Linked DNA regions of Homo sapiens. The protein of the gene in region 2 interacts with the protein of the main gene of each other region in a pairwise test. Each region holds a gene or a part of one and is shown on either strand. Other genes may lie near its edges.

Region 1 (3,648 bases), on a different chromosome or scaffold from region 2:
TATTTTTCAGCATTTAAAACCGTCAGGCCTGGCTGGGTGCGGTGTGCACCACCACACCTGCTACTCAGGAGGCTGAGGCAGGAGAATTGCTTGAACCCGGGAGGCGGAAGTTGCAGTGAGCCGAGATCGCGCCATTGCACTCCAGCCTGGGCAACAGAGTGAGACTCCATCTCAAAAATAAATAAGTAAGTGCTGAGAATAAAATAGGAGTTGTCAGCCAGGGGTTTGTGAAAGGTGGAACTGTCTTGGCCTCCTGGTGTAGTGAGCATTCCAGAGAGGCCTTCCGAAATGAACAATAAATGGGATAATGCCTCATTTTGTTCAGTAAGGAAGTGGGGTGGTGTGAGTTGTTCATTCAGTGCCAGGCACTTTCCTTGGTGCCACATACATAGAGATGACAGCACCAGGCCTGTCCTGGATGAGCTTCCCCAGCGAGAGGGGAATACCTATGATCAGGGCAGTGATAATGGTCAACTCAGGGGCTGTGGGATCAGAGTAGCCTGTGGGTGAAATAAAACACTTTCTCTTTTTTTTTTTTTTTTTTTTTTGAGACAGAGTCTCTGTCGCCCAGGCTGGAGTGCAGTGGCACAATCTCAGCTCACTTCAACCTCTGCCTCCCAGGTTAAAGTGATTCTCCTGCCTCAGCCTTCCTAGAAGCTGGGATTACAGGCGCACACCACCACTCCTGGCTAATCTTTGTATTTTTAGTAGAGACGAGGTTTTACCATGTTGGCCAGGCTGATCTTGAACTCCTGACCTCAGGTGATCCGCCTGCCTCGGCCTCCCAAAGTGCTGGAATTATAGGCGTGGGTCACCGCACCCGGCCAAAGAAAACACTTTCAACACAGCTTTGGGTTGTGATCGATCCCAGCTGTGCTTCTCTAATCTTGCACAGGTTTCTTAACTCGTATGGGCTTCAGTTTCTTTGGAAGGTGTGTTCTCTTTGCAGAGTTGAGGGGTGTGTTTGGTAAAAGCAGAGAAAGTGAGCCAGGGACTGGTGCGTTGTAGACGCTCCAGGCCATTGGTTCCCCTCCTTTTAGTTCTGAGTCCACATGGTGTTTGAAATATCCCCACAGCTTCCAATGCATGTTTACCCACATTGCCTTAGTTGATCTCTCCTAATAGCTTTGAGAGCCATAATCTCTCTTTTTCAGATGAAGAAACTAGGGCCCAGGCCGGGCGCGGTGGCTCATGCCTGTAATCCCAGCACTTTGGGAGGCCGAGACAGGCGGATCACGAGGTCAGGAGATCGAGACCATCCTGGCTAACACGGTGAAACCCCGTCTCTACTAAAAAATACAAAAAATTAGCTGGGCGTGTTGGCAGGCACCTGTAGTCCCAGCTACTGAGGAAGCTGAGGCAGGAGAATGGCGTAAACCAGGGAGGCGGAGCTTGCAGTGAGCCGAGATCGCGCCACTGCACTCCAGCCTGGGGGATAGAGCGAGACTCCGTCTCAAAAAAAGAAAAAAAGGAAACTAGGGCCCCAGAATAATCAGCTGGTTGGTGAGAAGCCTCTGTTTGAACCTTTTAACTTCCAATCCCATATCCTTTTATATGACAGTATATTTATCTGAGATATACTGAAATGAGTCACTTTTATTATGAGTCTTCTGATGAGGCCTGTGTTTTAAAAGTCTGGGATCTGTGAAGATTTCCCATGTGCAGAATCTCCTGGCATTACCATTTGGTGTGTTAATTTTTAAACATGGTAAACAGAGATAATAAGGGCAAAAGATTCCTTGGAAAGATGCAGGTCTGGGAAGCCAGTAGGGGATGCTGAGCGCTCTTTTGACTGACTGGATGCTTCCTTTCTCGCCTTTTGAGGTGGTGTGGACCCTGCAAGATCCTGGGGCCGAGGTTAGAGAAGATGGTGGCCAAGCAGCACGGGAAGGTGGTGATGGCCAAGGTGGATATTGATGACCACACAGACCTCGCCATTGAGTATGAGGTATGGATTGACAGGGAGTTGCCACAGGGAAGCCAGTATAGGAGGTGTCAGGCCCAGGGATAGCTGGTGTAGGAGGTATCTTGGGGAGCACAGGTAGCCAGTAAGCAAGGTGTCTTGGTTTTTCCAGAGCTTTTTTTTTTTGAGACGGAATCTCTCACTGTCACCTGGGCTAGAGTGCAATGGCATGATCTCGGCTCATTGCAACCTCTGCCTCCCGGGTTCACGCGATTCTCCTGCCTCAGCCTCCCAAGTAGCTGGGACTACAGGCGCACACCACCACGCCCAGCTAATTTTTTGTATTTTTAGTAGAGACAGGGTATCACCATGTTGGCCAGACTGGTCTGGAACTCCTGACCTTATGATCCACCCACCTTGGCCTCCCAAAGTGCTGGGATTACAGGCATGAGCCACTGCGCCCAGCCGGTTTTTCGAGAGCTTTTAAGAGCTCAGAGCACTTTGCAGAGGTGGCTCTTGATCCTCTGAGCCACCTGTCTCTCTTCACCACCTTTAGGAAGTAGATCGTATGACCCAAAAACACCAGGTCATTCACTTAGTCTCAGACATTGGTACATTCCTTTATCCATCTACCCACATGTTCAGTGAGCAGTCATTTGGGAGCTCGATGTGCCAAGCATTTGTGATTCTGACACAAGATGAGATCTTGTTTCCAAGCAAGATCTCTCCTAGTCTAGCAGGAGAGAACAGCAGGTAGAAAGATCATCTCAATATAGAAGTGCTAAAAGAAGAGGCGCATAAAGGAAGAAGGGACTGTTTGCTTGTGGGGGAGCTGGAGGGGACAGGGAATGCTTCACGTTAGAGAGAACCTCTGAGCTGAGCCATGAGGGATGCGCAGAGGAGGAGGAAGGGCTGAGGAAACAGCGTGCACAAAGACATGGAGTCGTCTCACTTGGTTGGTTGGTTTGTCTGTTTATTCAGCAGATATTTGAGAGTCCCTCAAGTGCCAGGTAGTGTTACTTGGTGTTGAGGATAAGGCAGTGAACAAAACTGACAAAATCTCTGCCTCCGTGGAGTCTACATTCTAGTATTTTAAATCAAGGGTCAGCAAACTTTTTCTCTAAAGGACTGGTTGGTATTGGAAGCATTGCAGGGCAGTGGTCGCTGCTACAACCATTCAGCTGGGCTCGTAGCCGAAAGCAGCCATAGACACTATACAAACAAATGGGCATGGCTGTGTTACAATAAAACTTTATTTACAAAAACAAGCAGTAGGCTGTATTGGGCCTGTGAACTATAGTTTGCTGACCCCTGTTTTAGATAATAAGTTCAATGGAGAAAAATACATCAGGAAGAGAGGATGGGAGTACTGCGTATGAGGCAGGGTTTTTGTTTTTTCGAGACAGAGTTTTGCTCTTGTTGCCCAAGCTGGAGTGCAGTGGCACAATCTCGGCTCACTGCAACCTCTGCCTCCCGGGTTCAAGCAGTTCTCCTGTCCCAGCCTCCGGAGTAGCTGAGATTACAGGCACGCGCCACCACGCCGGCTAATTTTTTGTATTTTTAGTAGAAATGAGGTTTCACCATGTTAGCCAGGCTGGTCTTGATCTCCTGACCTCGGGTGACCCACCTGCCTTGGCCTCCCAAAGTGCTGGGATTACAGGCGTAAGCCACCGCGCCCAGCGGGTTTCTTTTTTAAAGGGTGGGATAGGGTAGATCTCCCTGATAAGCTGACCTTTGGGCAAAAA
Region 2 (3,648 bases):
CCAGCATTTCCAGAATCCAATGACCATGCCCAGTTCTTCCCATAACCGCACAATTCAGGTCGAGGGACCAGGAGTTTGACCCTCACCCTGTCCAACTGGTTTTCTAGGATCCTGATCCTTCGCCTGATCTTGACCTTCTGATCCAGGATGAATCCCGGGGACCTGACATTCTTACTGTGGGTAAAGATCCGCGTCTCCCACTCCTGGATCTACAAGAAAGAGGATGGTACCTGTTTTTGGTTGCCTGAATGTGGGAGAGATTGAATGGCCCAGGGAAAATGAGTCACTAAGCATGGCAAACATCTGCTGTCCCTGTCACCCCAGAATAACATCTACCCTTCTGCTGACACTATCCAGCCCTCCATGTGGTTCTGGTGGGCCTTCCAACCACAGTGTATCACCCTATCAGCCACATGACCCAGGTCTGGACACTCACAGGGATTGGCCTAGAGATGGGAATGTGACCCCATGGAGCTAGCCTGACTCCTTTCCGTTTTTTTTTTTGTTTTTTTTTTTTTTTTTTTTGAGACAGAGTCTTGCTCTGTCTCCCAGGCTGGAGTGTGCAGTGGCGCGATCTTGGCTCACTGCAACCTCCACCTCCCAGGCTCGAGCAATTCTAGTGCCTCAACCTCCCGAGTAGCTGGGATTACAGGCACGTACCACCACACCCAGCTAATTTTTGTATTTTTAGTAGAGATGGGGTTTCACCATGTTGGCCAGGCTGATCTTGAACTCCTGACCTCAAGTGATCCACCCGCCTTGGCCTCCCAAAGTGCTGGGATTACAGGCAAGAGCCACTGCACCCGGCCCTGACTCCTTTCCTGATAGTCTGGGGGAAGCACATGAGATGGAAGGATGGGATTCCAGGACTTCTCCTGTCATGGCCCCACCACAGGGAGGGTCCTGGGAGAATGAGGCCAGTGGACAGAAGTGGAGATGAGAGTCGGAGAGACGGTGAGAATGAACTTGATGACATTAGTAGCCCTGGGTCTGCTTATGCCTAAGACCAGCTTCCAATCTGTCCTCATTTCTGTATTCATCTGTACTTATTGGGGTGTGCTCTGTCTCTCCCAGCAAACTGGGGGTTCCATGAGGACACAGAGTCTTGTGTTTTCTCCCTGTCCGAGACAAAGAAGGTATTCAACATAACATGCAGACTAAATAGATAAATGAATTGCTCAACACTTCAATTTGTGCTCTGTTATGGGTTGAATCATGTCCCATAAAAACTCATATGTTGGCCGGGCACGGTGGCTCACACCTGTAATCCCAGCACTCTGGGAGGCAGAGGTGGGTGAATCAGCTGAGGTCAGGAGTTCAAGACCACCCTGGCCAACATGGCGAAACCCCACCTCTACTAAAATACAAAAATTAGCAAGGCGTGGTGGCAGGCACCTGTAATCCCAGCTACTCGGGAGGCTGAGGCAGGAGAATTGCTTGAACCCAGGAGGAGAGGTTGCAGTGAGCTGAGATTGTGCCACTGCACTCCAGCCTGGGGAACAGAACAAGACTCCATCTCAAAAAAAAAAAAAAAAAAAACCAAAAAAAAACCTCACATGTTGAAGTCTTAACCCCCAGTACTTTAGAATGTGACCTTATTTGGAGACAGAGTCTTCATAGAAGTAATTAAAATGAGGTAATTAAGGTGGGCCCTAATCCACTACGACGAGGTGTTCTTAGAAAAATGGGAAATTGCTGGGTGTGGTGGCTCATGCCTGTAATCCCAATACTTTGGAAGGCTGAGGCAGGATGATCTCTCGAAGCCAGGAGTTCAAGACCAGCCTGGGCCACAAAGCAAGACCCCATCTCTACAAGATACAAAATAAATTAGCTGGGCATGGTGGTGCACACCTGTAGTCCTAGCTACTTGGGAAGCTGAGGTGGCAGATCCCTTGAGACAAGGAGCTCGAAGCTGCAGTGAGCTGTGATTGAGCCACTGTACTCCAGCCTGGGTGACAGAGGGAGATCCTGTCTCAAAACAAAACAAAACAAAAAAGGAAATTTGGACATAGATACGCACACAGGGAGAATGCCACGTAAGGATAAAGACAGAGGTCAGGTGTGGTGGCTCACGCCTGTAATCCCAACACTTTCGGAGGCTGAGATGGGTGGATAACTTGAGGTCAGGAGTTCGAGACCAGCCTGGCCAACATGGCGAAACCCCATCTCTACTAAACATACAAAAATTAGCCAGGTGTGGTGGCACATGCCTGTAATCCCAGCTACTTGGGAGGCTGAGGCAGGAGAATCGCTTGAACCCAGGGGGTGGAGGCTGCAGTGAGCTGAGAGATTGGGTGACATGTCTACAAGCCAAAGTACCCAAGACTGCCAGCAAACCGGCAGAAGCAGAGAGAGAGAGGCATGGAACAGACAGATTCTCCCCCACACTGCTCAGAAGGAACCAAACCTGCCTACATCTTGATCTTGGACTTCTGGCCTTTGGAACTATGAGAAAACATATTTTTGTTATACGAGCCACCCAATTTGTGGAACTTTGTCATAGCAGCCCTAACAAACTAATCCACGTACCAAAGATACCCCAGAAGGCTGCAGCAAACTTAAGACTCAGCATGAGGATGTTTTAAATTTTTGAGGAAGACCTTGATATTGGTCAGATACCACATGAACTGCTAGCTTAAGGCAGTTCACAAGTTCAACATGAGAGGGCGCTATCATCCTTTTGAAGATGTCACATCTTTGTGAGACTGGATTTTCAGCAGTTGCTGCAATAAAAGCCAAATACCCAATTGTTGGTGGGCGCAGTGTCTCACGCCTGTAATCCCAGCACTTTGAGAGGCCGAGGCGAGTGGATCACCTGAGGTCAGGAGTTTGAGACCAGCCTGGCCAAAATGGTGAAACCCCATCTCTACTAAAAATACAAAAATTAGCTGGGCGTAATGGCACGTGACTGTAATCCCAGCTACTCGGGTGGCTGAAGCACGAGAATCACTTGAGCCTGGCCTGGGAGGTGGAGGCTGCAATGAGCCGAGATTGCACCACTGCACTCCAGCCTGGGTGACTGAGCGAGACTCCACCTCAAAAAAGAAAAGAAAAAGAAATGTCCAAAATGTTGACACTGGGGGAAAATGCAGCAAAGTGTACAAGGGATGTCTCTGCATTATTTCTTTCAACTGCACATGAATCCCAACAAAATTTTCTTTCTTTCTTTTATTTTTTCTTTTTTTTAGAGACAGGGTCTCACTCTGTCACCCAGGCCGAGTGCAGTGGCACCATCATAGCTCACTGCAGCCTCCACCTCCCAGGCCAGGCTCAAGCAATCCTCCTGCCTCAGTAATTGCTTTATGAAAGAAGAGATGACATACGGTAAAACTGCACATATTTAGTGTTCAATGTGGGATGGGCACGGTGGCTCACGCCTGTAATCCCAGCACTTTGGGAGGCTGAGGTGGGCAGATCCCCTGAGGTCAGGAGTTCGAGACCAGCCTGGCCAACATGGCGAAACCCCGTCTCTACTAAAAATACAAAATTAGCCAGGCATCGTGGCAGGCACCCGTAGTCCCAACTACCCAGGAGGCTGAGGCAGAAGAGTTGCTTGAACCCAGGAGGTGGAGATTGCAGTGAGCTGAGACTGCGCCACTGCACTCCAGCCTGGGTGACAGAGCGAGACTCCATCTCTAAATAAATAAA
Region 3 (4,273 bases), on a different chromosome or scaffold from region 2:
AATTTGAGGATAGAATCTTTCTATTTCTTGTCCCCTTATACTAGAAGGGACATTTCTTTGCCTTTTCTTGTCCTCGTATTTTTCTCCCCCTTATTCACTTGCCCACCCCCCCCCCATTTTCCACTCCTTCCTCTCCCTGTTCCCTAACCCCTTTCCCTGGCTAATCTCCAGAGAAAGGAGACTTGGTTTCTCCTCTCTCTGTCGAGAGTCAGCTGATGGTCTATCTGCCTATCTACCTCTAGTGACTGGAAGCTCTCAATAGTGGACTCCAGCTCTGCTCTACCCACTGGCCTGGTGGGTGTCTCCGTTCCCCCATTGCTGGGGCTTAGCATTAACTCTCAGTATCCTGACATAAATGACTAACTAGAGCCATTTATATTTGTCCAATATATCTGGTCACCTTGAACAGTGCCCACCTCTCCCTTGGCATATTTTCAGGTGTATGGTGCCAGTGGACTGGTATCCTTGCCACCTGTTAGTAACAAGGCTCCCAATGGAAGAATAAACATGGTCTGGAACTAAACTGGAAAGAATAGAGCTGATAATGATGATTACGATGATGTGGTGAGTGGCAGCGTTGGGGAGAATTAAGAAGGGAGAAGATAAAGGGAAGAAGAGGAGAGAGCCACACAGACCAAAGTCTGTGTGGGTACAACAGTTCTATTTTAAGATTACTGTGGGAAAACAAAGGGTATGATCCTGTCTGGATTGTTCTGACCCTCCCCTGTTTCTCTCCCCACCCCACTTGAAGCTCTGGGATAGCCTTCAAGGATAGGGTTGGAGATTCCAACCCTACCTCTTACTCTACTCTTGTGGCTCTTGGTGGGGAGGAAAAACGTCTCCCTGCCAATCGGAGACTCCCAGAATAGCACAGCAATTTGATCTGGGGATCTGGGAGAATTGTTAAGGATCATGAGTGACCTCCCCTCTTCCCTGTGCCCAAGCTCCTTGAATACCAGGAATCAAAAGCTAAAACTCAACTAACGGAGTTTGACCAGCATTCAACACAGTCTGGGGGAGAGTGAAACGGGAAGCTGAAAGGCAACCAGGACCCCCTGGATGCAAACTGCCAACCTAGAATTGCCAAAGTACACTTCTCTATTTCAATGTTCTTCCCTCCCCTCTTCCTCTTCTTTTAAAACATCCATAGAGCTGCCCAGAATGAGTGGAAAGTTTCAGGGTCAGGGAGAACCTCTTCCCTCCCCCACTTTCCATTGTCTAAAATCAGCCTCAGCTGTTGCTAGATATTTTTTTTGCTGGTGATGTCAGTTCATCAAAGCGTCTCACCCTGTGTTCCCCCAGGAGAACAATGATGGGGTGGAGGGAGCTGGAAAGACCATATTAGGAACAAAAGGTGGAGCTATGAGCACAGATAAAGACTCAAGTCTGGGGACCTCCTGGTCACTCAGGCAGCAGCCCCTTCTTTCTTGCCCCAGTCTCCAGTTCTCCAGTGTTCACAGGTGAGCCTACCAACAGCCACTGCTCATGATGGAGGCCATCAAGAAAAAGATGCAGATGCTGAAGTTAGACAAGGAGAATGCTCTGGATCGGGCAGAGCAAGCTGAAGCTGAGCAGAAGCAGGCAGAAGAAAGAAGTAAACAGGTAGGCACTGGCATTGATCTCTCTCATCTGCTAGTGAACAAGACTGTGAAATGGAAGGGAGTTTTCATGGGAAAGACAGTGACTACTGGTGTCACCTCCTTTTTGGGGGTGGGATGGACTCCCCAGCCTCACTGGAGGAGCAGAGGATATCTAACATATCTGTCTCAGACTGCCTTTGTGACCTTGGGAAAGTCAGTGAGCCACAGTATGTCTGCTGAATTTAAGTAGAAATGGACCATGTTTTGGAAGAACCCTTGACTTCTAGAGGAAAAGGTAAGAGTTCTAGAGGGAAAGAGCATCTCTTTTCACTCAAATAGCATCACGGGCATCTACACTTTAGATATTTATCATCCAGGGGTCTTGGATGAAAACCCAGGATGGCTTGGTCATCTTAGGATCAGAGATTACAGGGTCACAGGCCAAGCTACGGCATAACTCCTGAGGCAGTGGGCTGGAAGTGGCTGGGGAGAAAGTGTGTCTCACTAGGGATGGTAACATGGAGGTTACACTCAGGGCTCCAAGAGCCCAGGGTCCAACCCTGCATTGTTGTGTTTGTGTGTTTTTGTGTGTGACTCTCTGGGCTCCTATAGCTGGAGGATGAGCTGGCAGCCATGCAGAAGAAGCTGAAAGGGACAGAGGATGAGCTGGACAAGTATTCTGAAGCTTTGAAGGATGCCCAGGAGAAGCTGGAACTGGCAGAGAAGAAGGCTGCTGATGTGAGTATTAGAGAGATGGAGGATGGGTTTAATCTACACATATAGATCTTTATGTTAATGTATGACGAAATTCCAAACACACTTGTGGGTTCATGGAACACAGACATATATACTCACATACATTTTTGCATATAACCACATGCTGGTATATTCTCATAATGGCATGTATTTTCTTTCTTAAAGACATCTCCAACATGTTAAAAGTTTTTTTTTAATACATGTAAAGGTCTCATTTATCTCCTATCACCAACCCAGGAATTTAATTATCTTTCCCAGGACCTGGACAAAGAGAGGGGACTCTAAGTTCAGAATGCTGTCACTTATCCTACCTCCTCCCCCATGCCACATTCTTAGCTTTTATGTCCAAGTCTTGGCATGTGGATATGTGTATTAATAGGGAACCTCTCATCTCTCAACTGTCCAACAAAACCAGCTCGGATTTCACAATGGGAAATGGAGGTCACACTGACCCTGGCCATATATGGGTTTATTTATCTTGGCCAATGCAGGCATTTGCCTTTATGCCATGGAGATGCCATATGAAGCATTGCTCCTAGGGCAGCAGAGAGATCCCTACAGTGACAGAGTATAATAGAAACTAAGAAAGAATCTTAGGGGGTAAAGGTATCACCACCAGACTTCACTCTATGACCGTGAGTAATTACTCAGCTTGTCTAGGGCTGAATTTTCCCATTCTCAAATAAAATAAATTCTCTTTTCCATCTCATATTATCCCATCATCATCACCTACTTTCCTTCATCTTTAACCTTGAAGTTTGCTGCAAAGATAAATGAGAGAGTAGATTGAAAAGTTTTTTAGAAGAAAAGTACCATAGGAATCTTACCAACAACAACAGAAATGTCCCAGTATTGGTGGAAACAAGTTTCTCAGTGAACTGAGTTAATAGGAAAAAAGGAGCATGTAATATTTAAAATCATATTTGGGCTGGGTGCGGTGGCTCACGCCTGTAATCCCAGCACTTTGGAAGGCCGAGGCGGGTGGATCACCTGAGGTCAAGAGTTTGAGACCAGCCTGGCCAACATGGTGAAACCCTGTCTCTAGTAAAAATACAAAAATTAGCCAGGTGTGGTGGCGGGTGCCTGTAATCCCAGCTACTCAGGAGGCTGAGGCAGGAGAATCGCTTGAACCCAGGAGGCGGAGGCTGCATGGAGCCGAGATCGTACCACTGCACTCTAGCCTGGGCAACAGAGAGAGACTCTGTCTCAAAAAATAAGTCAATAAAATAAAATCACATTTGGTTTTGGAAAATAGCTAGAAGGACAGACAGAGTGAACCATTCATAAATGCTTTCGGATCCTCATATTTGGTCTCTCTGCCATCCGGTTTCTTTCCTTTTCTTTTCCTTTTTTTTTTTTTTTTTTTTTTGAGACAGGGTTTCACTCTTGTTGCCCAGGCTGTAATAAAATGGTACTATCTCGGCTCACTGCCATCTCCACCTCCCAGGTTGAAGCGATTCTCCTATCTCAGCCTCCTGAGTAACTGGGATTACAGGCACGTGCCACCATGCCTGGCTGGCTAATTTTCATATTTTTACTAGAGACGGGGTTTCATCATATTGGTCAGGCTTGTCTTGAACTCCTGACCTCAGGTGATCCGCCTGCCTCGGCCTCCCAAAGTGCTGGGATTACAGGCGTGAGCCACCCCGCCCAGCCAGGTTTCTTTTTATTGTTGTTGTTGAGATGGAGTCTCGCTCTGTTGCCCAGGCTGGAGTGCAGTGGCACAATCTAGGCTCACTGCAAGCTGTGCCTCCTGGATTCAAGCCATTCTCCTGCCTCAGCCTTCCGAGTAGCTGGGATTGCAGGTGTGTGCCACCATACCCAACTAATTTTTGTATTTTTTTTTTAGTAAAGATGGGGTTTCGCCATGTTGGCCATGCTGGTCTCGAACTCCTAACCTCAAGTGATCCGCCTGCCTCAGTGTCCCAAAGTACTGG

Evidence for each region.
Region 1: the proteins of ODAD1 (region 2) and TXN2 interact in binary tests that used the Homo sapiens proteins (3 or more experiments, as listed by UniProt).
Region 3: the proteins of ODAD1 (region 2) and TPM3 interact in a two-hybrid assay, tested with the Homo sapiens proteins (one large-scale study listed by BioGRID).

What each region holds. Positions count from the first base shown.
Region 1 is NC_000022.11:36,475,033-36,478,680, reverse strand, and holds part of TXN2 (thioredoxin, mitochondrial precursor), read left to right. Parts: intron 1-1,824; coding exon 1,825-1,948; intron 1,949-3,648.
Region 2 is NC_000019.10:48,311,908-48,315,555, forward strand, and holds part of ODAD1 (outer dynein arm-docking complex subunit 1), read right to left. Parts: intron 210-3,648; coding exon 87-209; intron 1-86. UniProt on the Homo sapiens protein: Component of the outer dynein arm-docking complex (ODA-DC) that mediates outer dynein arms (ODA) binding onto the doublet microtubule. Involved in mediating assembly of both ODAs and their axonemal docking complex onto ciliary microtubules.
Region 3 is NC_000001.11:154,189,231-154,193,503, reverse strand, and holds the start of TPM3 (tropomyosin alpha-3 chain), read left to right. Parts: upstream 1-1,403; 5' UTR 1,404-1,485; coding exon 1,486-1,602; intron 1,603-1,770; exon of another isoform or gene 1,771-1,875; intron 1,876-2,192; coding exon 2,193-2,318; intron 2,319-4,273. UniProt on the Homo sapiens protein: Binds to actin filaments in muscle and non-muscle cells. Plays a central role, in association with the troponin complex, in the calcium dependent regulation of vertebrate striated muscle contraction.